Regions from separate parts of the Homo sapiens genome. Here region 1 is linked to region 2. Evidence: fine-mapped QTL for protein levels in blood plasma. Region 2 holds a variant in brackets. A gene starts in the other region. All regions are shown on their forward strands.

Evidence for each region. PIP is the chance, under the fine-mapping model, that this variant and not a neighbour inherited with it causes the effect. Protein levels are from antibody-based Olink assays in UK Biobank. Linkage for the fine-mapping came from a reference panel and not from the study's own genotypes, which makes the PIPs less certain.
Region 1: it holds the start of ERMAP, and the variant in region 2 is fine-mapped to the plasma level of the ERMAP protein (UK Biobank, PIP 0.97).

The regions. Positions count from the first base shown.
Region 1 is chr1:42,808,937-42,824,406 of GRCh38, forward strand. It overlaps ERMAP (erythroblast membrane associated protein (Scianna blood group)), which reads left to right and starts at 8,186. Exons shown (of 12, transcript NM_001017922.2): 1 at 8,186-8,317. It overlaps SVBP (small vasohibin binding protein), which reads right to left and starts at 8,461. Exons shown (of 3, transcript NM_199342.4): 1 at 8,254-8,461; 2 at 7,495-7,644. The coding sequence starts at 7,608. RefSeq lists silencers at 7,335-7,404, 7,965-8,164, 8,315-8,604.
Region 2 is chr4:144,094,943-144,109,302 of GRCh38, forward strand. LOC105377460 (a long non-coding RNA gene) reads left to right here. Exons shown (of 11, transcript XR_002959803.2): 5 at 355-432; 6 at 8,374-8,572; 7 at 9,074-9,153. Among named protein-coding and RNA genes, the nearest start is that of GYPA, 39 kb to the right of the region's middle. The variant C/T (reference allele first, on the strand shown) is at 10,031.

The sequences.
Region 1 (15,470 bases), not on the chromosome of region 2:
TCCTCCCGCCTCGGCCTCCCAAAGTGCTGGGATTACAGGCGTGAGCCACTGTGCCCAGCCATAAGCAACGTTGATTCTTTCTGTGCTTTAGGAGGCATCTGTTACAACAGTCCAGACAGGAGGTCGTGGGAATATCGTCTACAGCAGGCAGTGGTGATGGAAAGAAGATGGCAAGAGACATCCTCAGGTGAAAGGCAGGGTAACTACACCTTATTCCTCATCATCTTTCTTTATTCTTAATTAATCCACCCACTAAGAACAGAAACAGATCACAAAACTTCCTAATTTGTAGAAGAAAAAAATGAAAGACAGAGTGTGTGTGTGTGTAGAGGAGCTATAACTTGATTAATTGAAAAGACAAGGAAGGGGGAAAAAATGAAACTTAGAAGTGGGACAAATAGAAAATACAAAATAAAGAGCAGAAACGAATGAAAAAGCAACCAAACCTACAATAGAGAGGATCACCAAGACTGCCAGATGGTTCCTTGAAAATACTAAAAAAAACCTTGCAAACCTCTGACATGACAGATCAACATAAAAGGGAGTGGGCACAAATAAACATTATTAGGAACTAGAAAGAAGACTTAACTACTGACATAACAGAAATGAAAATGAAACATTATGAACTCCGTGCCAACACATTTGACAACCTAAATGAAACAAGTTCCTAGGAAAAGTAAAATGATCCAAACTGACTAGAAAGCTTGAATATTCCTGTCATCTTTAAGAAAAATGGAATTCTACACAGTGATGAAAATAGTTACTAACACTACCGCAAATGATTCTTGAAACACAGAATGCGGCTGATGAAACTAGTAAATTTTATGTATATTTTACCATAATAAAAATAAATAAACTTGAATGGTTAAAAAAAGGCTGAGTGAAGACAGCCAGTCACGGTAACATATATAAAAGGTCAGAAACATTCAAAACAATATATTGTTACACAACAAAATATTTAGAGGTACACAGACAGTAAATTAACGTAGAACAGCAAGAATGATTAGCATAAAATACAGCAAAGAGGGTACTGCTGGTGGGAAGGGTGAGGTACATGACCAGGAAAGGAGTACACAAAGCTTCCCAGTTACTGGTCACGTTCTATAGTTGGGTGTTTTATTCTTAAGCCACATACACACATTATATAAATATACTTTTAACACACACACACACACACACATACATACATACACACACACACACACACACACACACACATATATTTTTTTTGTGAGCAGAGTCTTGCTCTGTCACCAGGCTGGAGTGCAGTGACCCGATCTCAGCTCACTGCAACCTCCGCCTCCTGGTTCAAGCAATTCCCTTGCCTCAGCCTCCTGAGTAGCTGGGACTACAGGCGTGCACCACCGTGCCTGGCTAATTTTTTGTATTTTAGTAGAGACGGGATTTCACCATGTTGGCCAGGATGGTCTTGATCTCCTGACCTCGTGATCTGCCCACCTTGGCCTCCCAAAGTGCTGGGATTACAGGTGTGAGCCACTGTGCCCGGGCCCACATATATACATATATATTTGAAAACCTCTGCTTGCTTCATTCACTAAGTATTTACTGAGCATTTTTAATCTGCACATTACTGTACTAGGGACTGAGATGCAAATTAAATAGCTTCTCAGAGACCTCCAGATCAAGGAGGCAAGATGGTAGGAGAAAGAGGAGACTCACAATGGGTCAGGGTGTCCAGGCCAAAGAATGACTCTCAGTCAAGAAGGAAACGGACCCTAGCAGTGTCAAACGGTGCTTCCACTGCCAATGTGCCTTCCGTTCCCATTCACCTCCCACATCTCTCCTTCACATCTAACTTTCTGGAATCTGGCGTCTGCAGAATTGAATAGAAACTGTCTCTTCCTCCCCACAAAGGGTCTTGTTGCATTACATTCCAGGCAATAAAGATTAAAAACAAACAGGATAGGCGCGGCGGCTCACATATGTAATCCCAGCACTTTGGGAGGCCGAGGTGTGCGGATCACTTGAGGTCAGGAGTTCGAGACCAGCCTGACCAACATGGTGAAAGTCCATCTCTACTAAAAATACAAAATTAGCCAGGCATGGTGGCGGGTGCCTGTAATCCCAGCTACTCAGGAGGCTGATACAGGAGAATTGCTTGAACCTGGGAGGTGGAGGTTGCACTGAGTCGAGATCGTGCCACTGCACTCCAGCCTGGGTGACAGAGCGAGACTCCGTCTCAAAACAAAACAAAAACACCAACCAACCAAACAGAAAAAAAAACAGCAAGGCAGCTGTAGGGGGCAAGGCAAAAAACAACAGACAAAAGTCAGAAGATGTTTAGACCACAGGCCTGCCCCTCTTTAACTACAGGACTCTACTCACATCCCTTTGAAGTGAGGATAATACTGCCTACCTCACAAGGCCATATATTTTACATATCGGATTAACCAAGGTTAAATGGGAGTCACAATAACTCCTGCTTTGGAGCCCTGGTGTGAGGACTACATGTGGCTATGCATGTGTAGGCTTGGCTCGGTCCTGGCACATCTCAAGAGCTGCACGGGGCCAGCTGCTGCTTGAGTGCAGCAACGTTGCATTTCAGCAGGTCAACAGGAACTCAGCAGTTGTTCAATTTAGGGTCCACACAATAAGAGCAGGCTGCCTGCTTGGAAACACAAGATTATTCCTGATCATAATCACTGCTAGTTATCAAATGCTTCCTCTGCCAAGTACTGCGCTATGGGCTTTACACGTGGTATTTCTATTCCTTTTAATGGTCTTCTGAGGTAGATGTTATCCTCATTTTACCAAGGAGGAACTGATGAACTGGGGGTTCAGAGAGGTTAAGTATCTTGTCCAACGTCACATGGAAGAACTGGGATTTATGGAGGAGCTGAGATTTGAAGTCAGACAAATAAATTTAACCTATAGAACTTTACAGAAGGGTGTCAATAAGGGCATGAACAATGTCCTCAACATCTATCCTTACAATATGCACAGAGGACAGTTTCATAGGGCTGTTTTTTTTAAAAACGGATTTTAACATAATTACTATGTGTACATAGACAATTAAGAATAGGGAAAAACCCCAAATTAATGTTTTAACAAGTTACAAGCTGTTACTAAAGACAATATCCTTGGATTTAAAAAAAAAAAAAAGAGTACAATAGAGGAAGTCTCTCATTCAACCGAGCAGTTTAACCAATCTCTTTTAATAAATCCAGCACATTACAGTGGTATAAATTTATCTTTTTTAACACTCCACATAAAAACATGTGTCCTCTCTTACATTTAATCATTAGTAGTCTCTAAAATGGTAAAATAAATTGAATTTACATTAGCAAATGAAAGTGCAAATTTGTACAGCTAGGCTCAGCAGCAAAAGTGAAGAATAAGAATGAAAGGTGAAAAGCTGGTGGATGCCATGCAGAGCGAGGACTTCCATAAAGGTCTGTGCCCTGCGGCCAAACACAGTCAACACACCACCATTTTCTTGTTGCTCTTAAATGAGCAAAACCAAATTTCTTTTTTATTTAATGAAATATTAAATCTTTATTTCCCCCTAACATAATTTGTGATCAAGTAGGACAGAGGTAAGTCCCACCATCACTGGGGACAGTAGCAACACACAGACTTCAGAAACAGCCTTGAATCATCAGTAACATCCTCCCCTGGTAACGTTAGAAGGAATGCATCTAATGACAAATTTGCAATGTTGTCACATTGTTCTAATTTATTTGATTAGTTTATCTGGAAAAACTTTACACATTATTGAAGACAACAGTAAATTATTTTCTTGCTCTGAAAAAATAATGTTTTTTCACATTTTAAAACCTTTTAGTATGCTTTTGCAAAAGTAGTTGCAAGAATATGACAGCTGGGTTTGCAGAATGTCCATGTACAAGTTTGTATTTATAAGAAACTGGTAATCTGCCTATAATTTGCCTCTACAAATAGAGCTCTTTAAAATAATATTTTTAAAAAAACAGGCTTAAACTTTTCCCTATTCATTCTACTTGTAGCAAAGAGGTACTTACTTTTCAAGTATTACATGGTAAAAGGCACAAGTTTTTTTTGCCAATTTTAAGCTGTTAAGCTTTAAGACCAAACTATGTGAAAAAAAATCATGCCTAGTCAATCCTAGTCAATCATTTTATAGCCAAATCCTCTTGTCTTTTAAATAACGCAGAAAAATACTAATTTGCTAAGAAGGAGCACACTGGAAAAAGCCATTTGAAAGTACTGAAGAATGAGGAGTATTTTTTTTCTACTGATGAAAATTATTAGGAAAGCTATCCTGTCTGTTGTCTTTAGCTAGTTTAAATAAATCTTTTCAAAATGATGGTCAAGAAATCTTTAGAAAACTGGAAGAGGGGATGCTCTTTTATAGCATGAAAGGAATTCCATTAATTATAGAAATTCTCGTTAAATTTTGACGTTGGTTCTTCAGAAAAAATACGCATTTAACTTCTGCAGTCTGTTGTGTTTGAACACCATCTACCTGAGCCAGGGGCCCAAGCGTTCCTTCATCATCAAAGGCCAAAACTGGATTCAAAGGAACTTCTGGGCTCTTACTGTTAGTGACATCTAATCTGGATGGTTTCGATCCAATGGGTAAATTTATAATTTCTTCAAAATTTTCATTCTGAACAGAGATACTCCATTTTCATTTGGTTTTCCAAATTGGGGGTGCTCTCCACAGTCACTTTTGATTGGTGTGAGGTAACCACATATGGGCTGGCAACTGGTTCTCCATTTCCCAGAGCATTTGTTGTACACGGAAGTATAGATAGCTCTGTTCCTCCAGTGAGAGCTCCCTTGGCTATATCACCATTTCTCTGATCAATGGTTTTCTTATCTGTAGCTTCTGTTCTCCTGCTTCAGGGCTGTTTCTTATAGCAACCCTCATATTGTTCACCAAAGCACAATGCAGTCATATCATCTGAGGACCCGGATCCAGGTGGGAATGGGAAGGTAAAGGACCACAGCTCTCAGGGGGTCTGCCTTAACCCAAAGGTAGATTTCAGTTTACAGATTAACTTCAAATGCACTAGTAAGTTTACTTATTATGTTTACTGCCTCCCCTTGCTGGAATGCAAGATCCATGAAGGCAGGGATTCTTTTCTGCTTTGTCATCATGTGACTCAAATTCCTCGAACAGTGCCTGGCACATACTAGCAGTTCTTTTTCTTTTTTTTTTGTTTTTGAGACAGAGTCTAGCTCTGTCGCCCAGGCTAGAGTGCAGTGGCACAATCTCGGCAACCTCCGTCTCCTGGGTTCAAGCAATTCTCCTGCCTCAGCCTCCCGAGTAGCTGGGACTACAGGGAGCACCACCACGCCCAGCTAATTTTTTTTTTAGTAGAGACAGGGTTTCACCATGTTGGCCAGGATGGTCTCAATCTCTTGATCTCATGATCCGCCTGCCTCGGACTCCCAAAGTGCTGGGATTACAGGTGTGAGCCACTGTGCCTGGCCAATATTTAATGAATGAATCAGGTTAACAAAAATTAAAAGTTGACAATATCGGCCGGGTGCAGTGGCTCACACCTATAATCCCAGCACTTTGGGAGGCCAAGGCAGTGGTGCACGCCTGTAATCCCAGCTACTCTGGAGGCCGAGGCAGGAGAATTGCTTGCACCCGGGAGGCAGAGGTTGCAGTGAGCAGAGATCACGCCACTGCACTCCAGCCTGGGTGACAGAGCAAGACTCCGTCTCAAAAAAAAAAGAGACTCACCATCAGAGAAATGCAAATCAAAACCACAATGAGATACCATCTCACACCAGTTAGAATGGCGATCATTAAAAAGTCAGGAAACAACAGGTGCTGGAGAGGATGTGGAGAAATAGGAACACTTTTACACTGTTGGTGGGACTGTAAACTAGTTCAACCATTATGGAAGACAATGTGGTGATTCCTCAAGGATCTAGAACTAGAAATACCATTTGACCCAGCCATCCCATTACTGGGTATATACCCAAAGGATTATAAACCATGCTGCTATAAAGACACATGCACACGTATGTTTATTATGGCACTATTCACAATAGCAAAGACTTGGAACCAACCCAAGTGTCCATCAATGATAGACTGGATTAAGAAAATGTGGCACATATACACCATGGAATACTATGCAGCCATAAAAAGGGATGAGTTCATGTCCTTTGTAGGGACATGGATGAAGCTGGAAACCATCATTCTCAGCAAACTATCGTAAGAACAAAAAACCAAACACCGCATGTTCTCACTCATAGGTGGGAACTGAACAATGAGAACACTTGGACACAGGAAGGGGAACATCACACACCAGGGCCTGTTGTGGGGTGGGGGGAGGGGGGAGGGAAAGCATTAGGAGATATACCTAATGTAAATGACGAGTTAATGGGTGCAGCACACCAACATGGCACATGTATACATATGTAACAAACCTGCATGTTGTGCACAGGTACCCTAGAACTTAAAGTATAATAATAAAAAATAAAAAATAAAAAGAGACTCCATCTCAAAAAAAAAAAGCAATGTGGCAATGTCTAGTAAAATTGAGAATGTACCCAGTAATTTTTCTAGTTAAATAACCTACAGAAATTCTAAGGCAGGTGCCAAAGGAGACACCTAAAAGCTTTTCACTACAGCAATGTTTGTAATAGCAAAAAATACTATAAATAATTTAAATGTGCATCTCTGTAAGAATGAATAAATATACTAAGTAAAATGGATGCATAAAATAGACTATTATAAAAATTAATGAGAATAAACTAAATTCTTATATTGGCATGAATAGTTCTAAAAAACAATGTAAGCAAAATGCAAAATAAAATGCAGGAATTTTATTAATGTAAAAATTTAAAATACTACTGTATATTGTTCAAGGATATCTATTAATATATTTGAATGTAAAAGTATAAAAAAAAGTAGTTGTCCATGGAGAAGTAAAAGGATGTAAGACAGGAAATGAACAAAGCAGACAGATAAACAAAACAAAGAGGGAAAAAGAGACCAGCAAGATTTTCCCTGACATTAAATACTAAAATAAAATACTTATGTCTGTATGTGGCTCAATATTGGCAGGGTAAAGTTTAAAGCTTTTTATTCTCAAGTTGATTGTAATCGTTGAGAGAACAAAGGAACACACTGGTGAGTTTAAAGCTTGGGCCTCTACCTGGCATGAGTAGCTGCTTTCCGCACCAAATCCAGAACATCTGTACTGGGGGTGTCTGACACTTGCGTGCTCTCTCTCATTCTGACCCCTTCTTTCCCCTTACATATCATTTTTTTTCCTTTCTTCCTTCCCTTGGGTCTCTTACCACAAAAGCTCCGCACCAGACTGGGGTTCTGACACTAACTTGGCATGTGATTCTGGGCTGCCACCTCACCATTCTGAACCTCAGTGTTGTCCCCTCTAAACCTGGGAGAACACCCATCCTGCCTGGAGGCAAGTATGGCTCGCTGTCAGTTCTCCTTTCTGCTGTTTCTCTATTCCAGCATCATCTCCAGCAGACTACAGGCATACAGAGCCTCCGCCTTAATCTCACCTCTGCTCTTTGTCTCTGCTTCAGCTCCTGCTGGGCTGATTTCTGTTTGGCCTTCTCAACTCTGCTGACAGATTCTTTAACTTTGGTTTTTTCTTTACGTGCAGGTGGATCCATGGCTTGACTTCTGGATATTTCTTAGGAGGCTCTGATCTGGGTGGTACAGAAAGAGGCAGATCTTCAAAACAAAACAAAACAAAAAATACCCTGCCAGTTACTCCTCTAATCCTTTAGCTCCGCCCCATCCTTTGCCAGGTGAGGCAGAGTGGTCTGGTGGCAAGGGCGCTGGATGTGGGGGAGTAGGAACCGAGTCCCAAGGCCACAACCTCGCTGGGTGTCCCTGGGCAAGTCTCCTCCCCACTTTGAGCCTTAGTTTTCTGTCTGCAAAATGGGTTAAGTGTTTTCCTGGCCTCCCTCCAGGAGCTGCTGTGTGCGGGTGAAATGCAAAGACCCCTGTGAAAGCGTTGCCCACTGTGCGGCGTGCGGCACCCAGCGCGGAACCGTCCTAATGGGACGCTGAGACCCAGAGGGCGCCCAGGGTTTTCCCACTGCGGCCGGCCTAACTCCGCCGCAGCAGCCGCTCCTGGGGCCAGGGGGCCGGGCCCCATAGCCAGCCGGGCCCGCCCCCCACCGCCCGGCCCCCCGACCCCGCCCCGGCCCGCCCGGCCCCAGGGGACGGCCCCCGCCTCCTGCCCTCTTCCCTCTCCTGGAGGAAAATGGCGGTCGCTGGAGCCGCCGACCAAGAGGCTTGGGAGTCTGTACCTTTCCCGACCGGGCCACTGGAAGTTGGAGCCTCCGCCGAGTCGCAGACAACGCCTCCGGGAGGGTAATCCTCGCCTTCCCCCGACCACTGGACCCAGCGCTGCCTGCCCACCGCCCCTCGTCCTGGGCGGGGCCGCGCGCCGGGGGGAGGGGCGCAGGGCCGAGCGCCAGGAGGCTTCCGCCCGCAGGAGCGGCCGCGCGTGCGCAGAGAGGATGGCTGGAAACCCGCGTAGAGGGCGGGGCGGGGCAAGCCGGTGCCGGGGCGGGGCAGGGGCGGAGCCACACCGGGGTGGGTGGTGGTTACGGCTAACCAAAGCTTTTTCCCGTTATATTTTCTGCAACAGCTACTAGGTTTTAGAGGGTGAGATCCGAATCCTGGAATTGGAATTGCTCAGAATTCGAATTCCGAGGCTCAATTTCTTAATTCGAAAAGTGGGGATTGATGATTGCCACCTTCTTCATTCATGAGTTTATTGGGAGGATCAAGTGAGATCCCGTTTGCCACAGTGCTTTGAAAAAGGAAATCTTGACAGAAGTACCAATAGCCAGTATAAATACAGAGAACATTCACGTTCAACTGATTACCGAGGAGATGTAAATTAAAATAGCTGGCTGTAATTTTCCAGGTATTACATTAGCAAGGATTGACAAAAATGATAATAGCTACCTTACATTTGGGCTTACTATATTCCAGGCACTGTTCTTACAGCTTCACATTTATTAACTAATTCCTCATAATAAGTGTGTATAATGTATACGTGTATATTATTATCCCCATTTACACATAAGGGAACAGAAGCATTGAAAAGTTAAGTGAGTTGTCCCGGGTCACACAGCTTCTAAGTGCTGGAGCAAATATTTCAGCCAGGATTCATAGGACAATGGCCTTATCCAAAGTAAAACCCTGTTTGGGTCCACTATTTGTTCCTCTATCAAACTGGCAAGAATTGAAACAACTGATAGATGCTAAGCAAGCAATGAACTCAGCCCAGATGGACACACGCTTCCAGTCAAACTGTAAATCGTTAACAGCCTTTCTGGAGGTCAGTTTAGTACTAGGTATCAAAAGCCTTAAAAGTGAGCACAATGCCCCAAAAAGACAAATACTGCATGTTTCCATTCATATGAAGTATCTAAAGCAATCAAAGTCTAAGAAACAGAAAGTAGAATGGTGACTGCCAGTGGCTAGGAGAGAGGGAAAAGAGGAATTGTTTAAAGGGTATAGAATTTTAGGTTTGTAAGGTGAAAAAGTTCTAGAGATCTACTGCACAATGTTTATTTTTTATTTATTTAATTTTTAAAAAATAGATGGGGTCTTGCTCTGTCACCCAGGCTGGAGTGCAGTGGTGTGATCATAACTCACTGTAACCTGGGCTCAAGCAATCCTCCCACCTCAGCCTCCAAAGTATCTGGGACTACAGGCACACACCATCATGCCTGGCTAATTTTTTAAAATTTTTTTGTAGAGATGGAGTCTCACTGTGTTTCCCAGGGTGATCTGGAAATCCTGGGCTCAAGTGATCCTCCTGCCTCAGTCTCCCAGAGTGCTGGGATTACAGATGTGAGCAATTGCGCCCAGCTTTTCCAAAATTTCTACAGTAAACGTTTATACTTTAGCAATCAGAGGAAAGTACATTAAATGTCTTTTTAAAAACCCTATACAAATGCTGATTCGATTATTATTAATAAAAGTAACCAAGTCAGAGTCTATTTCAGAAATCTTGATGTAGTACTGGTATTTTACATTTGTGTCACATGGTATGGTTTATAACGTTCATATAAGCTATGAACTAGATTACAGCTGAAGACACGGCAGGACCTTTAGAAGCCAGCTAAAAACAAACCAGCTATAGGGAATGGAGGAGTGGAAAAGCCACATGGAAGACTGGAAAAGTAGTGGTGCCACTGAGCCACTGTTGAAAGTGGAGAAGGTGTGATGAGTTGGTTTGGGAAACGGTGAGGAAGAGGATAAGTTAGGAGCGTGTGTGTGTGTGTGTGTGTGTGTGTGTGTGTGTGTGCGCGCGCGCAAGAGAGGGACCGAGAGAGAGAAAGAGCTAGATTACGCTTCAAGTGGCAATAGGCAAGAAGAATTGTCCAGTGAGCAATTAGAAGATTTCAGAAAAGAACGGAACTGGAGATACCAGTTTGGGATTCTACATTCTTTATTGGGAAGGTGAAGGTTGGAGCCAGGAGGGAGTGAATGTTGAGGCTGAACACTGTCAAAGTCCCCTCTCTATTCTTTCCATGAGTTTATGCTTTGTCTGTCTCTTTTGTGTCTACCAGTGGACTCTTGGCCAGGCTGCAGAATTTCCTGGTTTGTTGAATGACTAGCAAGAGTTTATAGTAATATAACTAGAATATTTTTACAGTTGAGGTATATACTACACTAAGATTATATTCACTTTATTGAATAATATTTTTTCTAGAGTCAAAAAATTATCTATTTTTATTTGCTTAATGATCTATGCATCCCTTGTTTATTTTTTATTTTCAGAGGTGGGCTCAAGTGATCCTCCCGCTTCAGCCCCTCAGTGGCTGGTACTACAGATGTGAACCAGGTCATTTACCAGTGTCTTTTTTTTTTTTCTTGGCAGCATCCCTCCTTAGACTCATCCTCTCTTTGCTCCAAACTCCTCTGCTTAGCCTTGCTTCACAGCTCTTGTCCTAGGATTAGGGACCTAACCACATTCTGGGGATTCTCTTCTTGTTTCTCCTGTGCCAAATCCCCTGCTCTCTGGATCTTATGTTTTTCCATTCTTGGTTTATTCTCTCATTTTGGAGGAGTATGTTCTCCACTAACTCCCCAGAAGGGGTTCATGGAAGCTAAATTTTTGAGTCCTTGCTTGTCTAAAAATGGCTTTATTTTCTTTCATCCTTGAGTGACAGATTTCCACATTGGAAATTATTTTCCCTCAGAAGTTTAACGGCATTGATTCATTGTCATCTAGCTTCTCATGTGGCTACTCTTGAGGAGACTGATTTATTCTGACTTGTGTTACTTCCCATATATTTTGTTTGTTAATTTGTTAATTTGTTTAGGATATTTTTCTCCTTTATCCTTGATGTTCTGAACGTTCATAACAAACTGTCCTTTAAGTATTTTTCATTCATTATGCTAAGCACTCGGTGGCCCCTTTCAATTGGGAAACAAAGTCTTCAATTCTGGGAAACGTTCTCTGTGATCAGTTTCTCTTTTTTTTTTTTTTTTTTTAACAAATAGAGACAGGGTCTCCCTATGTTGGCCAGGCTAGTCTTGAACTCCTGGCTTCAAGTGATCCTCCTGCCTCAGCCTCCCAAAGTACTCAGATTACAGGCATGAGCTGCTGCACCCAGCCAGTTTCCCTGTTTTTAAATTTTTCTTCATGTTCCATTTCCTGGTTTTGTTTATTCTAATTTACAAGAGATTTTCCTGAGCTGTATCCCCTGGTTCTTCTATTGAATTTTTTCATTTCTGCTACAAAAATGTTAATTTCCAAGAGTTTTTGTTTGATCCCCGACTTTCCTTTTTGGTAGCCTCTTGCTCTTATGTTGTGGATTCAGGATCTTCTCTTATTTCATATTTCTGAGGATTCCAGTTGTAATTTTCTGCTGTTTTCTTCTGCTTCCTAGATTGTCTCTGTTGTTTATTTTGGTCTCTGGCTTTCAAGTTGGAGCTTATCCTCAGACAATAACAGCTACCATTGAGTATCAGCCCCTATTTTAAGTATTTTGCATGTTTTAGCTAATTTAATCCTTACAACAACCCCGGGAGGTAGAGCCAGGCCCTGGTCCCTCCCATCCCAAGCCTGGAAGGTTCTCAGTTGAGAATCAGCTTTCTTCTTGCTGATGTCAAGGGTTGATGTCAGGAACCCTTTATCTGATGTTTCCCCCAATCCTGCCTCCCTCTGCAGGCACCTGGGTTAGAGTTCAGTTTTTCCTAGCTCTATTACTAGTGAGCCCTCTGCTTTCCTTCATTAAAGAAATGTATTGACATCTCTATTGCACAGTTACTTACTGTCCTGTTCTCTTTGTCCTTATAGGCTTTTCCTTTTGCACTCCAAGATTGTCATTTTAGATCATTTTGGGAGGTAACAGAGATAAGCATTTGTGTTCAATGAGACATGTTTATTTAACTGGAAATCTAGAGCTCCCTCTTTTTAAGTCAGGAAGCATATAGACCAAAAAAATTACAGTGATTATTACTGGATTCTGAGATTACGATTATGAGTGATATCTTTATCTATGTCTGTATCTGTTTTTCTCACTCATAGAGTTAGAAGTCTAAAAAGAACATTTCAGATAAGAAACTCATTTTATGATGTGATTTAGACTATCTGATAAAATGCTTCTGGAGAAAGCAGTAAAAATATTAATTATGACAAGTTATAAATTGGTACAATTACTTTGGAAAACAATTTAGTATCATCTATAACCTGGCAATACTACTTCTAGGTATATATTCTGAGAAACGCTTTACATTTAAAAATTATTGAGGACCTCAGGGAGCTTCAGTTTATATGAGTTATATTTTTTGAAATTTTCCATATTAAAAATTAAAACTGACTGGGTGTGGTGGTTCATGCCTGTAATCCAGCATTTTGGGAGGCCAAGGTGCGAGGATCACTTTAGGCCAGGAGTTTGAGACCAGCCTGGGCAACGTAGTAAGACCCCATCTCTACAAAAAAATTTTTAAAAATAGCTGGGCTTGGTGGCATGCACCTGTAGTCCTAGCTACTAGGGAGACTGAGGCAAGAGGATCACTTGAGCCTAGGAGTTCAAGGCTGCAGTGAGCTATGATTGTGCCTTTGCACTCCAGCCTGGGCAACAGAGCTAGACCCTAGCTCTAAAAAAAAAAAAAAAGAAAACTAAGAAAAATTAAATATAATTACTACTTTTAAAAATAAAAATAATAAATTATATAACAACAAAACATATATTTATGAAAAGCAACTTTTTTGAAACAAAAATATTACTGAGTAGCACTGCTTTATATTTATATAAATCCTTTTTAAAAAATTAATTTTTTTTTTTTTAAGATGGAGTCTCACTCTCTCGCCCAGGCTGGAGTGTGGTGGTGTGATCTCAGCTCACTGCAACCTCCACCTCCCAGCTTCAAGCAATTCTTGTGCCTCAGCCTCCTGAGTAGCTGGGATTATAAGCGTGTGCCACCACGCCTGGGTAATTTTTGTATTTTTAGTAGAGACAGGATTTCGCAATGTTGGCCAGGATGGTCTTGAACTCCTGAACTCAGGTGACCCGCCTGGCTCAGCCTCCCAAAGTGCTGGGATTACAGGCGTGAGCCACTGCACCCAGCCCTAATTAATTTTTAATTGACACATATGGTACATATTTATGGGGTACAGAGTAATATTTTGATACATACAATGTGTAGTGATCAGATCAGGGTAATTGGCATATTCATCTCAAACATTTATCATTTCTGTGTTTTGGGGACATTCAGTATCCTTTCTTCTTTATTTGAAACTACATAATATATTATTGTTAACTATGGTCATCCTACAGTGCTATAAAACAGTAGAAGTTGTTCCTCCTACCTAGCTGTAATTTTGTGTTATTGAACAAATCTCTCCCTATCCTCCCCTTCCCTCTCCAGCCTCTAGTAACCTCTGTTCTGCTTTTCACTTCTATGAGATTAACTTTTTCTTTTTTTTTAACATCTAACTATGAGTGAGAACATGTGGTGTTTAACTTTCTGTGCCTGACTTATTTCATATAACGTAATGTTTTCTAGTTCCATCCATGTCACTTTGAATGATGGGATTTTATTCTTTTTAATGGCTATAAATATTTTAGATGTCTGGCTTAATAGAAGACAGCTGTATTCTCAAGCCAGCTATATCTTTCAATCTGCTGCAGTATGTTTTGTGGTTGAAGTGTATGCAATTGGAAAAGGAGCATTTCAGTAGCTTTTTCAGATAATCGTGGATATTCTTTGATAAGACACCAAAACTCAGCAAGTGGTAGTTTTTTAAAGCTTAGTTGTGACATGAAATCTGAAACCATAGCAATGACCTTTTTATACTCTATTACAGCAACACTCACAGTTTTTTCTTGCATTTTAAATGAATGTTTTACCCATGCAGGGTTTTGTCAACACACCCATTGGTCATTTGGAAATTGCTGAGTCACTGAGTTTTACAGATCTTCTAAATGTTGACACATTTCATTATACAACATCAAAAAATCACATTTATTAATATCAATGCCAATCTCATCAGAAAAGTCTTTTGCTATTGTGAGGGTATCAAGCAGCAGATAAAAATTTTCCAAAATTCTAATTTTTGCTCAAAAGATTGAATGTTCTCATTGACAACAAACACTGTCAGTTGCTTTTCCTGAAGTGACAGGTGCACTTTATTCATTTTGGAGAAAATGCCTGCCAAATACCCAAGTCTGAATAATTATACTTTGTCTTTCAGCTGTACTTTCAGGTAAGAATGGTGCTCCATGAGTCAAGCGATTACTTCAGCTCACAACTCAATCACTTAAGGTTTTTTCCTCGATAAAGTCATCATACTTTGATATGCAGCGTAACTGTTTATGCATCCTTCCCATTTTGTCACACAAACTATTAAAAAGATGTGTATCTAAGAGTTGAAATTTAATAAAATTTGTAACTTCTACTACAGTTTGGTGCCACTTCCTGATTTGTGCTAGCTGTTTTACCCACTATTGCTTTTGCAGTGTCCTTGAAAATGTCAATACCGTGAAAAAGGCAAATAACGTCTTTATTATGATGAATGTAGTTTTAACCTGGATGATAGGGCCTCAGGGACTTCAAGTGTTTGTGGACCACACATTAAGAACTGGTGCTCTAGAGAAATTCTTGCACATGTGAGCAGGAAATACCTATCAAGAATGTTCAGGGCACGAGGCCGGGCGCGGTGGCTCACGCCTGTAATCCCAGCACTTTGGGAGGCCGAGGCGGGCGGATCACAAGGTCAGGAGATCAAGACCATCCTGGCTAACACGGTGAAACCCCGTCTCTACTAAAAATACAAAAAAAAAAATAGCTGGGCGTGGTGGCGGGCGTCTGTAGTCCCAGCTACTCCGGAGGCTGAGGCAGGAGAATGGCATGAGCCCAGGAGGCGGAGCTTGCAGTGAGCCGAGATCGTACCACTGCACTCCAGCCTGGGCGACGGAGCGAGACTCTGTCTCAAAAAAAAAAAAAGAATGTTCAGGACAGTATTATTTATAAAAGCTAAAGCCCAGAAACA
Region 2 (14,360 bases):
ATCTACAGTTTTGCATGGCTGGGAAGGTCTCAGGATACTTACAATCATGACCAAAGGGGAAACAAACACATCTTTCTTACATAGTGGCAGGAAGGAGAAGAATGAGAGCTGAGTGAAGGGGGAAGCTCCTTTATAAAACTATCAGATTATGTGAGAATTTATTCACTCTCATGAGAATAGCATAGGGGAAACCACCGCAATGATTCAAGTACCTCCCACTGGGTTCCTCCCATGACACGTGGGGATTATTGGAACTACAATTCAAGATGAGATTTGAGTGGGAACACAGCCAAACCATATCAGTCATTCCACATATTGAGTGATTTCTCTCTTCTATTCACTATTCTTCCACAGAGAGGGACCTGTAGTCATTACCTTCAAGGAACCTAAATCCTGGTGTCTTTATGGTTATGGGTGGCATATAATATACAGGTAAGCCAATGTTACAGGATGTTGTGAGACTATTCCTGTTCTTCCATAATTAGCCACTAGGACCACGGCTGAAACCAAGAGGCACTGATTACCGCCTCACTCTAAAGAGAATTACTGAGTTTGTGCTCACTGCTGGGGCCAGATCTCTTTGCAGGGCTATGTTTGGCTTTACACAATGTGACCCTCTAGTCTGTACAAGGAGAGGAATGCAGAGGGAAAGAGATTCACTGGAGTCTCTCGTCAGTGACCTGGTGGTGAATATATGGTAATGGGTAAATCCCACTTCACCTGATGAAGAAAAGGAGAAGGATGCACTTCATTCTTAGAATCTAAGCAGGAACAGGAAAGGGAAAATCTAGGAGAAAAGCTTACAAAGACTAAATGTCTTCAAGAAGGTGAGAGAAACTAATATTTGGTTTACTGTCAGCAGGCTGTTTGGGCGGCATTTTGCCAATATTAGCCCTATCCCTACGTGAGTAGGGGAAAGGGAATTGTGGTTGGACAACCGAGTTCTGAGAAAGGCAGTGATTGAGCAGCTGAACTCCATCCATTTGGTGGGTAAGGACCCCAGAGTATTCAAAGGATCAAATGGAATGTGACTGAAGAGTTATCTTGCCGATCTTACCCAGGAAGACTGTCCCCTAGGCAAGGGGACACCAAACACAAAGAGGCATGGGATAAGGATTTCAAGATGAGAGTTGGGCAGAACTGGAGTTTAATCCCCATGTCATGGTAAGGCCCTCTGAAATTCTCTCTATGCCTTTGAGAGACTCACCATTTAGATTCTGACTCCTAGAGTCCCTTAGTGGCCAGTCAACGTAAGTCAAGTTAGTAGCTACAGCCGTCAGGCACACGATTACACCGTGAACAGTGAAGTAAAAAAATGTCCTTTCTTTGCTTTCTTCCTCTAATCACCATCCCAGAGGCATGAAAACCTAGAAAAAAGAAAGTAGCTGTATAGCTTTCATTTATGTGTAAGATTGGTGTTTTGAAATTTTAATAACAAAAAAGACTAGAAAGTTGCCTATCTCCCCAGAATGTTTCTAGTGAATAGGAATAAGAAATAGGAAAAGTATATTCCATACAGTATAAGCAAATTTAAAAAATTGATTTTTTACCCTACTGAATTGAGACTTGCCAATAACCAGTTATACAAATAAAGAGGGTAGTCCTGGGAGCTGAGTGCTATGAAAAAAATACAGGAAGAAAATGAAAGAGAAATTAATGGGAAGGAGGGAAGAAGACTACAAGCTGCTTTGCGTTGGGTAGGCAGGGAAGACCTATTTCATTCAATGAAATTTTCCTGAGTTTTCCTGTGTTCTAGCCATTATTCTGGGCTCTGAGGATACATAGTAAACAAAGCAGATGAAAAATACAGTCATCAGAATTTTCTTTGAAGGTGTGAGACAGGAATAATATGGAGGCAGTCAAACAAAGATATGAAGCAAAAAAAGGAGAAAAAATTAGAACAAAGTTCCTAAGAAAGGAGCAAGCTTAGTATGTTGGAGTTTTGGGGAAAAGTTCAGTGGCTGCAACCTAATGACAGGAGAGAGTGGGAGAGGGTTGAAGGGGGCAGGCCAGGTGAGCTGAGCATGTGGACAAGTCAGAACTTCAGAGAGCATGCTAACAAGTGGTGATTTTATTCTGGTGCAGTGAAAAACCTACTGGAGATTTTAAGTAGGAGAAATACATGATCTAATTGATAGTTTGAAAAAATTGCTCTGTGAAGGAGGGAATATAAAAAACAAGAGTAGAGACAAGGAGACAAGCTGTGGGGCTGTTACTATATTCCATGCCATCTCATCCATTCTTTTTAGTAAGAATAAATGCTGCTGGTCACCTTTTAGTGATTACTTTTTAAAATTTCAAAATATTCAGAGATGGGGATACTTTAATCTGAGGACATTAAAATATACAGCATTTTTATGCTTTGGTAGACCTAGAAAAAGTTTAATAGACTTAGGTAAGACTTACATTAAAGTGATTACTTTTGATTTAAAGGTAATAGCGTTCAGCTGAGAATGGAAATAATTTTCACCTGGTTGGCAATATTTGCAATCACTTCTGAACCTTCAGTTTTATCCAGTTGAATAATAAAGGTCTAAAATTTCCTTCATTTGCTTTTGTCAGAGCAAGTTATGTTACCAATAATACCACCTACAAGAGAGAAGAGCCATGAGAAGTGTCAAGGACAATCTATGAGTAACTTAAGTGGAGGCTGATATAACATATTCTCTAATATATGATGCCCTGATAGCATTTGACAAGACCATTTGGAAGAGACCCAGATGGAGACAACAATTCTAGTTAATATGCTCCATTGAGTGATGTTCATCAGCTGATTGTGTGAACTCAGGCTGAACTCTAGTCATAAAATTTGGAAAGAAGGCAGTTTGAGAAATGGTATATTCTTCACTGTGAAATGATTGACCTGAGCATGAAATCAATTCTAAAAATAACTAAGGGGCAGATAAGTTCATGACCAAGCTTATAAAAATGAGAACCACTCAAAAGATCTCCAGTTTTATTCCTAAACCTATCTGTGCTGAAGAGCTTTTTGGATGCTTCGCACAGGACTGAAATTCTTGCCTCTAATTTGGACAATGACAGTTCTCTGTAATCCACAATTGAATGGTCACTGGAACATGTTAGACACGCAACATAGTCAAAGAATGCATAGATTAGGGTAACTATGTCAATTATAAGTAAAACCCCTGTAGACTAATGTAACTCTATCTGTTAGGGAGATGTGTACTAGCAACTGTATTGTTGCTATATGTATATATGTATATATATGTATATATATATCTAGTTTTGAAAAAGTTAATGGCTTTTGTTATTGTCTCTTTAAAAATGTAATATAGTTTTGTTACAGAAAATTAAGAAGCTAGAAAAAAAGTATAAAGAAAAAGATGAAAATTAGCTATAATCCCAACAAGTGAAATTAAGCTCTATACATATCCTGGCATCTCCCCCATCCCACAAACCCCTCACCCACAGAAAGAACTTTTAATGTAGAACTGTCTGCAATCTTTTAAATATGCAACAAACACCATTCCTTGTCATCAGACCTACCAGATTTTATCATGGTGTGACTGTAATGTCTGAGGTTTCTGAAATACTTTAGAATTTATACATTCAAAGCAGTCACCTTGAGAGGTAATAACATTCATTTATTCAAATGCAGATGCTGAACATAGCAGATTTGTGACAATCTCTTACTGCTCACTTAGGGGAGGCATACAGCATATGGCCATGGCCTGCTCTATGTCCTGTTTTTAGGATGGGAGAAAAGAGACCTCAGACACTCCTCCTTCTGACTCCAAGGATAAGGCAGTCAGAATGTATCTGGTGTGTACTAGAAGAGGAAACATGCTGCACATTGGGACCCCAGGTCCTTTGGTTTTACCTGTCCTTTCTGAGGTGTGGGCATCCTGGGGTCCCTCAGAGATTTCTGACCCAGCCATCTCAGTAAGATCTGCTGTGTCCTGGAGGTGATGAGTGCTCTCCAGAGTTCATTTGAAAGTCAGGCCCTTCTCTATGTGCTCCTACCCCTGTGCCTGTCATTCTCTTTACTGTTGAGGAGGGACCTTAACTCCTGGCAGGCGAACTATAATTAAGATCAATGGGTACTAAAGTAAGCCTATCAGAAATCTGGTTTTTGACAAAGATTTGAATAGAACTTGGTCCTTGCCCTCAAGGATCTCACAGTATGATAAACTTGTCTTTGCTTTTTAAATTACAGTGCCGTTTCAGCAGTCAGGCACCTTGGGTACTTGACTGAATCTTGTTCTTTTCCAATATATTTCACATGAGACTTCATGTTATCCTGGACAACCACCTAATGAGAGTCTAGGCTGAAGTCTTCATTCCCCTTCTGCATGTGCTCTGCTGTTGGCTTTGTTCAGACCCTTCTTTCTTCTCATCTATCCTACTGTAATGGGCTTTACATTTTAAACATAACTTGAAATAACAAATCATGACTATAATACCTGCAAATGGTTTGTATTTTGTTTTATTTTTATTGAGAAGTAGAGAATACAGTAATAGGGAGGAAAACAGGGAATTAGGATAGCCAAGGGTTGGAGCATAAGCAAAGGAATAGCAGGTGCAGCCAGTCTGCATAAGCAAGAGAACAGCAGGTGCAGCTGGTTCTAGGCAAGATCAGGCAGCATGCAGGCCACATCCTCATTCCTGTGATAAAAAGACAGAAGTTTCCACTTCAGCCTCTGCTTGACCATGAGCTAAGCCTCCACTTCAGCCTCTGATTGGTCACAGGCCAATCCTTCATAGGGTGTAGCCAATTGGAGGCTTCTAAAGGGTACCTAAGGGGTGTTGCCAAGTTCTTTTGGCTTTATAAAGACCCTAATTGGGGCCGGGCACAGTGGCTCACACCTGTAATCCCAGCACTCTGGGAGGCTGAGGCAGGTGAATCACTTGAGGTCGGGAGTTTGAGACCAGCCTGGCCAACATGGCGAAACCCCGTCTCTATTAAAAATACAAAAAAAAAAAAAAAAAAAAAAAAAAAACAAAAACCAAAAACAAACAAAAATATTAGTCAGGCGTGGTGGTGGGCGCCTCTAATCCCAGCTACTTGGGAGGCTGAGACAGGAGAACTGCTTGAACCCCAGAGGCAGAGGTTGCAGTGAGCAGAGATCATGCCATTGCACTCTAGCCTGGGTGACAGAGTGAGGCTGTCTCAAAAAAAAAAAAATCCCCAAAAACAGAAAACCCCAATTGGAGAGGCTTTGAACCCCTTGCTTAAGCCCACTCCCAGTCTGTGAATGGTCTTCAATAAGTCTGTGCTTTCCTTACTCCATTCTTCTGTTGCTTTGTCTTTCATTGCTTTGTTCTTTTGTTACTTTGTGCATTTTGTTCAATTCTTTGTTCAACATGCCAAGAACCTGGACAACTCTGTTGGGTAACAGTGGTTACCAGAGGCTGCTGGGGTAGGGGAGATGGGGAAAGGAAACTTGTAAATATTTTTGAAATCAAAATTATAAGGAATTATAATAAAAATTATTAATGAACATTAATTAATCACTAACAGTGCACCAAGCACCATTCTAAATGATTGGTAAGTATTAACTCAATCCTCACTATTGCTCTTTCAGAAGGTGGTAGTGTTATCGTCAGTACATTTTACAAATAAGAAAAGTCTCAGAGAGATTAATTAACTTGTCTAAGACCTCACAACTAGTAAGTGGCAAAACTTGGATTCACACCCATGTTCTCTGGCCATAAAAACTATGTTTTTAACCACTATGATATTCTGCAACAATTTTCTCTTCCAACCTCTCCCCGCTGTTCATCTTATGCTCTAGAAGCTAACACTCACACTGGCAGTCTTGGTGTTTTCCAGGTAGCTCATTCAATCTTGGGGGGAAACCTTATTGTACAAATCATCTTTTTGGCCCTTTCTACTTCATCAGTCAGAATTCTTTCATTTGCTTTCAGCTTTCCAAATATTTATTGAATTTACTCATCTCTTGTTATTTTCCCTTCTGTTATTTTCATTTTGTTTTTATAATTTAGACGGAGTCTTAGAAAAGAGAGAATATAAACTCAAATGATCATCTGCCATCTTGATCTAAAAGGGGGATACTCCAGACGTAGAGGAGTATGATTTACACTAGAGTCCATCAGGTGTGACTTGTGACCAGACTTAAGCCTGCTTTCCCAACCTTGTCTCCGACTTTTGAGCCCCATATGTTTTAATGTATGTTTCTAGTATATGCTTCACATTTCCCTGAGTCTGAGTGCCTCCCTCTAATCTCTAACGCTTTAAGTCCTCCTGAAAGCCATAGCTGAATATGATCTCTCTTCCTCAGCTCAACTGCTAGAGGACTGGTAGTACCTAACCAGTGGTGCGTATCATGTTTTCTCTTTTATTATAATAATTTCTGTTTTTTTTTTTTGAGACAGGGTCCCACTGGGTGGTCCAGGCTGGAGTTCAGTGGTGTAATCTCACCTTACTGCAACCTCTACTTCCCCAGCTCAGGTGATCTTTCCCACCTCAGCCTCCCACATAGCTGGGACTACGGGCATGCACCACAACACCTTGCTAATTTTTGTATTTGTAGTAGAGATGGGGTTTTGCCGTGTTGCCCAGCCTGGTCTCGAACTCCTTGGCTCAATCGATCCTCCTGCTTCGGCCTCCCAAGAAGCTTCTTATGAGTATTAGCAGATCCTTTTGCCGTGGAAAAAGAACATTCAGTTTGAAATCAGGTGCTGTAACAAAATCGTGACCTATATGGCATTAGGTTAGTATATGGGTGTCAGGAGATAAAGAATTAGATAATAAATGCTAGAAAGCAGCCTATTTATGCTATGCTGAGGTAAGCTATTTAGTAAGTTTTGTCTACAATAACTTTGAAAAAATACTACGTATCTTCTGCATCTGTAGTTTAGGAGAGCTTAGAAAGAGCTCACATTTTAGTGTTTGTTGACTGTTACTGCTTTTAGCAATATTGTAAGAAAAAATGAGTTCAGGAAGGTATTGGCTGATTTTCCAGAAGAAATTAAAGCTATCAAAGTGTTAGAAAAGCCAAATACATCTAGTCCTAAAACTGTAGGAGATAAGACTGAAAAAGACTTAGAGGCAAAATACATATCAATGCTTGTCATTAACTGAAGGAACTCAGCCCTATGGCTAAGATCACAACGAGAATATAGTTTTCATCTTCGCCCATTATTTCACTAGCATCAAAGAAGCTGCCATTAAGTTAAAGGCAAGTGCTCAAAAAATAAAGAGATTTAAAACTATGTCTCTGAAATAACTTTGGGTGTAGTCAGGCAAATGGAGCTCAGTGAAATTGATTAGAAATCAGCAAATTGATTAGAAATCACAGGTTTCTAAGGGAATCGTATTGCCAAAGTAATCATGAGACTGACTTGAAAAGCCTTTGCCTATTTCCTCTCTAAAACAAACCTAGCATCGTAAGACAATGTGTTGCAAAATCTGAACAGCTTGCAGTGAGGGCACACTGCCTAACACTCACTTAAATGTGGCCATAGAATTAAATGACCAAGGAAGTAACTTTCAAAGTGCAAAGCCAAGAGCCATGGTGAACAATGACATTTCTTCTACTTCCTGGGAAGGAGTCTTCACAATGTTTGCCCAGTGGATTCTATCATTGCCACGGACCTATGACTGATGTGTGTTTCACATTAATCTCTCTTTTGAATGGTAATTTTTATTGCCCATATCTTAGCCCAGCTCTACCAATGTGTTTTGGGTATGGTAGTGGGCAGATTACTTTACTTTTCTTAGTTTATTGGTTTTCTGGCCATGGGAAACTGCATTTCAATCTAGTGAGAAAACAGTACATGCCCCAAAATTCTTGGCTTTGAGCTACATGCTATCAGCTTAGATCCATAAATGATGATAGAAAGAATAATCACTTTCCCCACAGGCCTAGAGTAATATTCCTGTACCATTACCTGAGAAAGAAATAAACTTCTTGTGTGTAAACAAAATTATGCTTTGGGACTTAAATTGCCCTAGTTAATACTGTATACAATCAATTAGGTGGGATAAAGTAACAATAATCTCAGGCTGTGAAAATACTCAAAGTCAAGTGGGTAGCAGCAAATAGGCTGGGTAGGTGTGGAATCGGGAGCACATCAAGGCTTGAGGATACAGCAAAGTATCTGCTTACAAGAATAGGGCTAGCCAAGTGGGCAGAAACCAGACAGAAGAGTTAGGTTTCAAGTCCAGTTTTTAATCCTGGTGGAGGAATTGTGGGGAAAGTCATTCCTAGAAATACAAAAACCAACATTGGTCACTTTGCTTTAAGAAACTTCAAATCATCAAGAAAACTATTTTTACTTCCCTGTCTGCAGAATCCTTGAGAAAAAAACTCTAGGTCTGTTGTAGTTTTGATTTCAAAAGGAGTAAACTGGTCTATGACATAATCACTTCGGTGGACTCTATTCTAGACACAGTGAAGGAGTGAGATGTGAAGGTGCTCTGTCATTGCCTCAGTCAAGACTTTCATGGTACATTGGAAGAAAGAGAAGCGTGAACAAATTGCATGATACTTGAGGTCATGCTGTGTACCTGTATTGAACAAGAATAAGGGAAGAAAGCTGGGAACCTGGATCTCCCATATATTGGAAGTTTTGTAAAAACCTTGAGGTGAGTAAATAAAAACAAATTCTTAAAGGTTTTTCAAAAAACAATTGATTACATGGTTATCATGTTTTAGAGGATTCTGTTTAGCTTTAGAAGTGAAGAGCTATATGGGTCAGAGAATGTGGCAACTTATAAGTTCTATATCTTTTGCTCAGATGGTCCCAGTGAGAGATGAGGGCTTCATTTGCTTTTCTTTTAGGTTTTCTTTATAAGTTGTCTTAGTCCATTCTCACGCTGCCATAAAGAACTGCCTGAGACTGGGTAGTTTATAAAGGAAATAGGTGTAATTGACTTACTGTTCCCCATGGCTGGGGAGGCTTCAGAAAACTTGCAGTCAAGGCAGAAGTCACCTCTTCACAGGGTGGCAGGAGAGAGAATGAGTGCCAAGCGAAGGGGTAAGCCACTTATAAAAGCATCAGATCTTGTGAGAACTCACTCACTATTGTGAGAACAGCATGAGCAGCATGAGGGTAACCACCTTCATGATTAAATTACCTCCCACAGGGTCCCTTCCACTACATATGGGGATTATGGGAACTGCAATTCAAGATGAGATTTGAGTGAGGACACAGCCAAACCACATGGTAAGTCCTGGTGGGAACCGTGGTCATTGCTATATAGGATGACTATTACAGTTCTAGAAATAAACTCTTTCCTAGAGCAGACTTATTTTGAGGGAGAAACAACAGAGGCACATTTTTCTGCCTTCTGTTGCTGGGAGTGCACTCTCTTGTTGCTTCCTCAGGTGCTAAAATGGAGAAGTAGCCCGATTTTTCAAACTAGGATTTGAATTATGAATTAAAACGTATTAATCTGATGAAGGATTATATACACACTTGCTCTTAATATTATGTCAAACTGATATATTTGACATATATATGTTTTTTAAATTTAATTATTAATTTATTTATTTACCTTAAGTTCCAGGATACATGTGCAGAATGTGCAGGTTTGTTACATAGGTATACATGTGCCATGGCGGTTTGCTGCCCATATCAACCCGTCATCTAGGTTTTAAGCCCCGTTTATATTTTTATTGAGGTAAAATATACATATATAATTTGCCATCTTTACCATTTTGCATATACACTTCAGTGGTAATAAACACAATTGTGTTCTTTATTTTGCCTTCATCATCCCCTCCCTGCTCTCCTTCCCGTCCTCTGGTGATTACCAATCTACCCAATCTACTTTCTGTCTTCATGAAGTCCACATGTTTAGCTCCTACATATGAGTGAGAACACGTGATATTTGTCTTTCTAATATGTGTTAATATTAAAAAAAGTTTTAGAAACACTTCACATTTAAAAAGTGGAATCACATTCCTTCCAAGGTATACGAACTAAGTTGTCTTATTGTTGAGTTAGGAAACAGATATTTCTGGCTTTCCTTCCCTTTGAAACATTTCTCCTTCAGCTTTCAAGGCTTATTTCTGCAGAGTCACAGCACAGTTTAAACACA[C/T]CCCAAAAAGCATGTTTCATGAGATATGAACATGGGGCAATACCAAGATGTCTCTGGTCTTCAGTTTTGAAGTAGAGCTCTAGCTTAGAAATATTCAACAGCAACCAGGAATGTTAGTACTGCATTGTAAGTCCGTGGCACTATTTCTTGAACAAATACAAGAAGAAAGAAACTACTGAGTGTTGAAGTTTTTCTTTTTGAGCTTTAAAATTTATGCACTACATATTTTTTTAGTTCAGAATAATCATACTATGTTTTCTATTTTTTCATTAAAAATTCATTTCTACACATATTTTCACTTGTAGACAAAGTGTACACGCACTTTTTAATTGGCTACATAATAGTCTATTTTGTTAATATGCTAATATGTAAATTATAACTGACACATAGACATTACTAAGTTAGTGAACATTTGGGTTATTTTCTTTTTGCTATTTGTTGATGCAATTAATATGTAAAGTCAATTACAAAATAATAATTTACACTTTTTTGTAATTTTACTGGAGCACATTCTTCAAAATGGAAATACTGGGCCAAAAATATATAGACAAATTTGTGAATTTTGGAATATATTGCTCTATTGTTTCTGAGTCAATTTACAGTTACTAATAATGTATAAGTATTTTTTCCCATTATGCCTTATCTAAGTCATCAACAAATGCTTTTGCTACATTAATACTTCTATCTGTATAATGGTTGTATTAAGTAAACAAGACTCATAGAATTCAATTAGAAATAATTTGAGTCATGGCTCCTGTGTCCTTTTAAATGTCTTCTGTAGAACTGGTCCTTGCATTGTTCCTCTGCCCAAACATCCCATTACTCTTCTGGTCACCATTAGGTAATACAAATGGCTCTCCAGTTTGTAATTAAAATGTCTATACCAATGCAATAATCAACATTTCCATTCTGATTTAAAATTAATGTTTGTATTTCTTCTCTTCCCTGGATTCAGGAAAGGAATGATCTAGTCAACTTCTCCCCAACCCCAAACTGGAGCATTTATTCCTTTTCTTCCATCTTGCCACTCAAAGTTTCTAAACCCTCCAGCACTGGAACACAGGAAGGAAAAAACTAGGTAAAGGAGTAGGAAAGTCCGACTAGACCAATATTTCACAGTGGTCCCACATTTTCTCTTGGCAGAGTTTTACATTTGAACCTTCCTCTTATAGGTATTCTTGAGAGTTCTTCAGAATTTTCCCATCACTTGGGACTTTTCATCTGATATTCTCTTGGCTTGTATAAATCCATGTCTGTTTCAGTTGTTTGCCTGCATCCTTCTTCAGTCCCTCATGGGTAAACAAAGTATTAGATGTCTGGCAACACTTCTGTTTTCTTTCTCTTAAAAGTTATTGGCCTCTCTAGGAAGTCATTTCCAACATGACAAAAGATAACTCACAGGAACATTTTTTTTTTTGCAGTTGGTGTGTATAGAGCCCACAGGAAACTCATTTTTTCACTGCCTCTTAAAACTGTAGGAATGCTTGTCATCCCTAGCTTTCCAGTATCTCCTTAATATACTTTCAGGGCAGGACTGGGGCCATTTTTTTGCCCTTTAGATATCTCAAGTAAGAGTCATAATTCTCTGACATTCCAAGGACACATTCAAGTTCTCCCAAGACCCTCTAGAGCTCTTGACAAAGTGAAGAGAGAACCTCCTCACCTCTCCTCCTTAGGAGAGACCTTGAAGACACACAAACAGCTCTCTACACTCCCTTTTGTTCAGTCACCAACTCCTTACACTTTTATTCTTTTACTGTTGGTGAGAGTTTTAGAATTGTACAATCTTTAGACATTTCCTTTGGAAATTCTGTATTAAGTCTTATATGTCAACCTGGAATGCAGTCTTTATTGGATATAAGGTGTCAGCCCGATCATCTATTTTGGTTTTCTATTACTTTAGCTAAGACTCTTTCTATTATAAATGACAAAAAGCCTAATTTAAAAAAACCAGCTTAAGCAAAGAGGGGATTTATTGACTCCCATAACTGAGAAGAGGTTTTGTCTGCTTAGGCACATCTGGATGCACAGCTCTTCGGGACCTAGCTCACTTTCTCATTCTTCCTCCATTCCTCTCCCTCTCTCCTCCAGCTGTCCTTCATGTGATGACTTTATGTTCAGACAGGTTATGCTGATGTATCCAGCCTAGTCTGCTTTCCATGTTAAAAATGATCCCAGGTGGTCTATATCACTTTCCAGTGTTCAAATTTGGAACCATACGCATACTAAATTTGATAATCAGTCAGATGATGAGCACTCTCACCTTCCCTTTCTCATGATTTCCTGGCCTGGCTGTGATACCTATACACAAGTATTTTACACCATTCTTACTCCAGGCTGCTCAGCCAGTTGTCAATTTTAAGATCCCTCATTCTATGGTCACACTTTTGACATTTTAAGTGTAGGTTTAAGAACAAATATTATCATACCTCTTAATAATTAATTTCTTTTCATGGGTAAATAAGGTATTAGGAAATAATAAGTGTATTTTAAAAAATGAATAATCACAACTCAGGGTACAAAACTATGACTGTATTTTTTCCATAATTGGATTTTTTTTTTATTTTCTTTTTCTTTTTTTTTTTTTTTGAGTCGGAGTCTTGCTCTGGCACACAGGCTGGAGTGCAGTGGCACGATCTTGGCTCACTGCAACCTCCGCCTTCCAGGTTCAAACGATTCTCCTGCCTCAGCCTCCTGAGCAGCTAGGATTACAGGTGTGCACCACCATGGCCAGCTAATTTTTGTATTTTTAGTAGAGATGGGATTTCACCATGTTGGCCAGGCTGGTCTGGAACTTAGGTGATCTACCCACCTCAGCTTCCCAGGGTGCTGGGATTACAGGTGTGAGCCACTGCGCTCAGCTGGATTTATTTTCTATTTTGAGAACCCACCTGTTGTGTCTTTTGCAGACAAGTAATATAGTATCTTGCAGGTAAACTTATAAAACATAACTGTGCTTATCCTTTTATTTTTCTTTCTCTTGTATTAATTATGGCTTAACACTAAGCTCTACAGCTATATACAAATTCAATATAAGCACTTTTACATTCTTTAAAGATAAATTAGGGCTAGTTCTGAAAAGCTGCTTATTTTCCCATACAAAAGCAGATTTTGTATAGAATCATGTTTGAGTCATCTTTTGCTGTAATATACCTCTTTCCATCAAAAAGCATTTGTGCGCTTCCTCCTTATGGTTTAACCTTGGTTTAGTTTCTATGCAAAATTTAAAAAAATCCAGGGGCTTTAGTCTGAGGGAAACAGTTGTGGAGAATATCACTCTACACATTATATCAACATGTAAATAAACTAGACACTTTTCAGGTTTAAGAAGATACGGGAGAGAATTGCAAAAGTTGCACATGACTGCCATGAGGATTATCTCTCACTACATGAGAGTAAATTTTTTTCCTTTTGGACTGATATTAATAGTTTCTTCTTGTTTTTCATTTTTCTGTATAAATATATAACTCTTGTGACATTTCTGCCAGGCAGTTATTCTAATCTTCATATTTCAGATAAAGAAACCAAAGTTATGTGAATAAATAGTGAGGATTCAAATCCTGGCTCCAAATCTGATTCTCTGTCCACATCACGCCAGACCAAACCTTTAAGAGGTCACTGTGTATCATGCCATTTTAAATATTAATAAAGGCTTCATGAAATAAGAAGCAAATTTTGTTAAGCCTCTCAGGAGTTACAAAAATGAATTAAAGTTCTTGCTTTTAATGAATCATAGTTAAGAAGGGTATGGAATTCAGATCGTAGTAATGCTACAAAATATGCATAAGTGCTGTGAGGATTCAGAGGAGATGTTTACATCTAGATGCTGAAAGTGGGTTAGCAGTTGGCAATGCACATGCCCCCTAAATACAGCTGAGGGCATAAATGCATTAGAACTGGTTGACACAGTGAGAGGCCTATGCATCACTTTGGGTCAAAGTATTTATTTATTTTTATTTAAATAACATTTGGCTTTTAGGAATTTCTTCTAAGAAATTTGCTACATTTGATAGGATATATGTTTAGAATAAACCAGAAGGCTATTCTTCAATCACTATATATCAATATCACCAAAATACGCCTTTGTCCATGCTGTTCTTTGGCTCTCCGTTCAGAGTTGTTTTTGGAGTTAAATTTCTATTGCAAGAAAAGGTCATTCTTTCTTCACAATGCCTCTCAGCCTTCTCCATTCATTTTTTCCCTCATTTAGATCTTTTGCTCATAACGACACAAGCAAACAACCAGGGCTGAAGAGTACAATTCCATAATCAGCATCACCAAACCTTCCCATCCCATCCCCAATTTTAAGAAATCCAACATGAGCCATCCA